2 separate regions of the Homo sapiens genome follow, and region 2 is linked to region 1. Evidence: fine-mapped expression QTL. Tissue or cell type: esophagus muscle. Region 1 holds a variant in brackets; the other region holds the start of a gene. All regions are shown on one strand. Distances are from middle to middle.

Region 1 (2,774 bases):
AGAGGAACAGGCACCGTCTTTCCCTTCATTAGGCCTATAGTCTCGTGGAGGGAGGCACACTAAATATAAAACAGAAAATTATAGTTAACTCCCTAAAATACACATATAGGAATCTGATCTTGACTGAGTAGTCAGGAAGGGTTTTGCTAAGAAAGTTATCCTTGAGCTAAGAATACAAGCATGAGTGGGCATTAAGTAGGCAAAGGTGGGATACGTGGTGGTGTGGGGAAGGTATATTCACTTTGTTGAGAGTTTTGCTGCCTAAAAGGATTCTAAGAAACTTAGAAGTCAGGACCTTATTTCCTAATTTGGCCCACAGGTATGGCTTTGTTGGTCTTCTGTCTGTGTGTATAGGGGCTGAGGAAAGGTGGGGTGAATGAGACTCACTGGCCTGAGGAGACAGACCAAAGTCCTCTACCCTTTTTTTTTTTTTTTTAAACACAAGGTCTTGTTCCGTTGCCCAAGCTGGAGTGCAGTGGTGTGATCATGGCTCACTGCAGCCTCGACTTCCTGAGCTCAAGCAATCCCCCCACCTCAGCCTCCCATGTAGCTAGTACTACAGGCACATGCCACCATGCCCGGCTAATTTTTTTTTATGTTATTTTTTGAGGCAGAGTCTCGCTCTGTCACCCAGGCTGGAGTGCAATGGTGTGATCTTGACTCACCGCAACCTTTGCCTCCCGGGTTCAAGTGATTCTCCTGCCTCAGCCTCCAAGTAGCTGGGACTACAGGCACATGCTACCAGGACTGGCTAATTTTTTTTTTTTTTTGAGACAGAGTCTCGCTCTGTCACCCAGGCTGGAGTGCAATGCTGCAATCTCAGCTCCTTGCAACCTCCACCTCCCAGGTTCAAGCAACTCTCCTGCCTCAGCCTCCCGAGTAGCTGGGACTACAGGCATGCGCCACCACGCCTGGCTAATTTTGTTTTTTTAGTAGAGATGGGGTTTCTTCATGTTGGTCAGGCTGGTCTCGAACTCCCAACCATAGGTGATCCGCCCGTCTCAGCCTCCCAAAGTGCTGGGATTACAGGTGTGAACCACCGCACCCAGCTCTAATTTTTGTATTTTCTGTGGAGATAGGGTTTCACATGTTGCCCAGGCTAGTATTGAACTCCTGAGCTCAAGCAATCCATCTGCCTAGGCCTCCCAAAGTGCTAGAACTACAGGCATGAGCCACCACACCCAGCCCCTCAACTCTTTCTTTGCTCACCACACAATCTGCGTTCTGCGTCAGCCTCTTGAGTGTCAGGAGTGAATTGTAGGGCTGAACCACTACGTCGCTCATCTCGTCCTGGTAGGGAAACACTGAATAAGTCTGCACTAGCTTCTTGGGGTACCTGAGAGAAAAGAGGATGGTGGCATAGTGAACCGGAAGGACCCCTCCATCACTGCCCATATGTGCCATTTTGTACAAAAGGGGTGAGGGCAGAACTGAGTCTTCAGAGCCAAAAAGGATAAGCCTGAAAGCTTCAAACTCTGTAGATCCCCTCCCCTCCACAGGTAAACCCCCACCCCCCAAAATAGCTTCC[A/C]ACATGGTCCTTGGGTGGGTCTGTCCCTATGACTCAAAAGGGGTAGTGGCAGACTTTCTAGCTCAAGAGAAAAAAGCAATGACATTACTCAGGGAACCAGGGTTAATGCCCTCTCCCCAAACACAGGCTTGCCTGTCATTCAGTCGCTCCAGGAGGTAGGAGCCCAGGCCAGAACCCGTACCCCCAGCGATGGAGTGACACAGCACGAAGCCCTGTGTGTATACAGGAATAAACAGACTCAGTTTCTCCTGCCACACTCTCACAACACAATTCTGATACCAGATGGGTGGGGTCTTACCACACACATCAGGTAAGCAGTCAATTCTACAGTAGATGCCAGCTGGGTATCCACTAATTCACTTCAATTCTGGACTACCTACAGACTGTCCCTGACTTAGGATGGTTTAATTTAAGATGTTTTGGCTTTATGATGGGTTTATCAGGACATAATCCCATCTTAAATCAAGAAGCATCTGAATTACAATGGTTCAATTTACAATTTTTCAACTTCATGATGGGCTTATTGGGTTATAACCTGATGCATTTCTACTTACGGTATTTTCAATTTTTTTTTTTTTTGAGACGGAGTCTTGCTCTGTCACCCAAGCTGTAGTGCAATGGCCCGATCTTGGCTCACTGCAACCTCTACCTCCTAGGTTCGAGCCATTCTCCTGCCTCAGCCTCTCAAGTAGCTGGGACTACGGGCATGTACCACCACGCCTGGCTAATTTTTTTATTTTTCGTAGATACGGGGTTTCACCATGTTGGCCAGGCTGGTCTTGAACTCCTGACCTCAAGTGATCTGCCCGCCTCGGCCTGCCAAAGTGTTGGGATTACAAGCATGAGCTACCGCACCTGTCCTCAAATTTGTTTTGGTTTTAGAGACAGGATCTCACTCAGTCCCCCAGACTGCAGTGCAGTGGTGTGATCATAGCTCACTGCAGCCTTGAATTCCTGGGCTCAAGGCATCTTCCTATCTCAGCCTCCAAGTAGCTTGGACTATAGGCATGTACCACCATGCCTGGATAATGTTTGTATATTTTGCAGAGATGGGGTTTCACCATGTTGCCCAGGCTGGTTTTGAACTCCTGGGCTCGGATGATCCACCTGCTTCGGCCTCCCAAAGTGCTGGGATTACAGGCATGAGCCACTGTGCCTAGTCAATATTTTCAATTTGTGATGTGTTTACATCCTGATAAACCCATTGTAAGTTGAGGAGTATCTGTACCTGAAGATAGCATCAGAT
Region 2 (2,753 bases), 190 kb before region 1:
ACTGAATGCTCCGAGGCCAAAGGAGAAAGTCCACAGTGAGGAGGCCACTCGACTTCCCTGGACACTGAAGCGGGGGCCTTGGGGATAGAACTGTAGAGGGGGAGCTGGACCCGGGGGCACAGGGGACTTCAGGGACCAGGACCCACCTGTGCCATTGTCTGGGATCAGCACCACATTCACCAGGCCGGCCTCAAACTGGGCCTCCAGCTGGGCCAGGCTGTCGTAGTAGCGGCCTTGATAGAACACCTTCTGGATAGTCCAGCGGGCAGGGTCAAGGGCCTTGTGGTTCACTAGCAGCTCCAAGCCCACGTGGTGCAGGAAGAACCCAGCGCCCGAGATGTTGTAGTAGAGGCCAAACCAGGTGGCCCGGTCCCCTGATTGCAGACCACGGGGAGCCGTGGTCATTGTCACCAGGTTCCGTCCCCGGTGCTTGTAGAAGCAACAGTGGTGGAGAAGCCCAGAAGCCTGGGGCAGCTCTCTGTTGAAGATCATCTGGTCTATGTCCAGGTACTCTTGGAACAGCACGGGGCGTCGGTGATAGGGCAGGGGGCCTCCATGACGCTCCACAGTCACGTCCCGCATGTAGGAGGGGTGAGGCAGTGGCCCCACCACCAGCTCACTCACGTTGGGCTGGGGTTGCCTGCCAAAGAAGACGATGGCCAGTGCCTCCCGGGCAGGTGGGGGGCTCCCCCTGTCCAAGTGAGCCAGGGCTGCAGCCTTGGGAGGCAGCTGCAACTCCACTGAGAAGACACAGTTGTCCGAGGGCCGGGCCTGGGCTGCATCCACCAGCCCTGGCCCCAGCCGCTGGGTCAGAAAGCGCATCACAGCCGTCAGCTCCTCTCGGCTCAGGTCTGCAAACAGCTGGCTCTGGCCAGGGTGTGTCCAAGGCTGGGCACTGGGAGATACAGAGGGGCAATGGGGAAGCTGGCTGGGTTCACCCCCATCTCCACCCCTGCCCACCAGCAGGACACAAACCAAGGCAAAGATGGTGATGACGGCCAGAATGAGGAGCACGAGGATTGTCTTCTGGTTCATTTTCCCACGAAGAGGGACAGCTGATTCAACCAAAGGAGAGCAATGTATTCTCACGCCAGCAAGACGGGGGCTCTGTTGGCTCCTGGACGGGGTGGGGGGCTCCCGGACTCTGGCTGAGGTTCCCGGTAGTCAGATGCCTGGGACTAAGGGTGGGAAGGACACAGGAAGGCTAGGGCAAGGGGGCGGGGTGGCCGGGGTTGGAGGCGGGTCTGAACAGCTGTGATTTCCACAGACCTTACATGGTTTTGTCTTCCAGCCTCCAAATCACTCTACTTTCTGGGTCAGGGTTGGAGTTGGGGAGAGTTGGGGCTAGGGGGAAGGGGAAGGAAAATTTCAAGATAATGCAGCACTGGGAAGGAGCAGGATCTGTGCAGAGCAGCCTCTCCTGACCTCAGCCCAGCTTCTTCCCCAGTCCCCCACTTAGTCAGGGCCAGATATTTTCCTGTAACTTCAAACTATCGTTTTCCTTCCAAAGACCCCCACCCCCTGCCCCTTTAGCTTTCCAAATGACATTCCTTGGCCAGGTCTATCCCCCTTGCCCTCTGGCCCCCAGCGCTAATTTCCCTGGCCAGACTCCTTAGTATTCTCCAGAGGACTCTAGATACTTAACAGGTCAAACAATAAATTCAAGTAAAATTCCTCTAATACTTTTTATTATAAATTACATACAACATCTGTTTTACAAAATTCTATCTACTCTTCCTTTTGAATGCACATGCATAAAGAGATGTCTGATGTAATGTGACCACCTATTTCTGAGTAGTAGGATTTGTGATATTTTTCTTTGAATATTTAAAAATCATTTTTATAATTTAACACTTTAGAGATGAACAGGAAGTAAGAATTAACCAAAGGGACTGATGGGGGTTTCGTGTGAGAGGAACATTGAGGGGGTGGGAATCTGGGGAGCAGGTGTGATAAAAACACGGAGAATAGAAAGTAGAAACAGGGAAAAGTACATGTGCCTAACCACGCCGCCCGCCACACCCTCAGGACTAGAAGCCGTGGTAAGAGAAAGGGGGTAAGTCCGGGACACAGGCTGCCAGGTCGGGGAGGCAGGCCACAGGATTGATGCTGCAGAGCCCAGCATCCTGGCCCTTCTCAAAGTAGACACTGCCAGGGGAGAAGATGGAGGGGTCCTCATCAAAGAAGTTATAGGGTCGGAGCAAGAAGCCAACTCTGTTCCCCAGAGTCACTGTGTTTGGGATGTCCTCGGCATGGGGAATGTGCAGGAAGCTGGCTGTGACCCAAGCCACCAGATCCTGCAAGAAGAAGGAGGAGCTGGAGGACTATGGAAGCGTGACCCAAAGAACCACCCTTCAGTCACAATCCCAGCCTCCAGTCTCAGCCTGGCTTCCACTCTCCCCAGCCTCATGCCCATACAACACGTGGAGCAATCCATGTAAGCAGCTGTGCGGGGAGAGGGGGGAGCCAGTGTCCCAGAGCTAATCTCACCCCAGGAGGGATGACCTGTGTTGGTCATCAGAAAACTCCATGGCCTCTGAATCTGCGAACTGGAAATCAGCCATTCCCTCTAACCTTTGGCCAGAGGCTGGGCAGCCAAGATGCCATGCCCACAGGTGTCCCTTTCCTATGTCCCTAGGGCAACCAACCTCTCCTAAGAGGGTTTCATTGTTGATGAAGTCAGCAAAGGTAACTGTGGGTGTCCAGATGTCATTCTGGTGATAGATGCTACTGCTCTGTGACTCCTCCTCCTT

Direction of the effects. Positions count from the first base shown, and alleles are read on the strand shown. Sizes are in standard deviations (SD) of each study's normalised expression.
In carriers of allele C in region 1, the expression in esophagus muscle of the gene that starts at base 1,180 in region 2 tends to be lower than with A alone (moderate effect, 0.47 SD a copy in GTEx).

What was found. PIP is the estimated chance that this variant, and not a neighbour inherited with it, causes the effect. A credible set is the group of variants that fine-mapping cannot tell apart.
Region 2: it holds the start of AOC3, and the variant in region 1 is the best candidate, but not a certain one, in a credible set for the expression of AOC3 in esophagus muscle (GTEx, PIP 0.74).

The regions. Positions count from the first base shown.
Region 1 is chr17:42,661,939-42,664,712 of GRCh38, reverse strand. TUBG2 (tubulin gamma 2) reads right to left here. Exons shown (of 11, transcript NM_016437.3): 5 at 1,661-1,740; 6 at 1,210-1,336. Among named protein-coding and RNA genes, the nearest start is that of TUBG2, 4.0 kb to the right of the region's middle. The variant A/C (reference allele first, on the strand shown) is at 1,529.
Region 2 is chr17:42,849,626-42,852,378 of GRCh38, reverse strand. AOC3 (amine oxidase copper containing 3) reads right to left here and starts at 1,180. Exons shown (of 4, transcript NM_003734.4): 1 at 1-1,180. The coding sequence starts at 1,035. AOC2 (amine oxidase copper containing 2) reads right to left here. Exons shown (of 4, transcript NM_009590.4): 3 at 2,649-2,753; 4 at 1,672-2,297. The coding sequence ends at 2,031.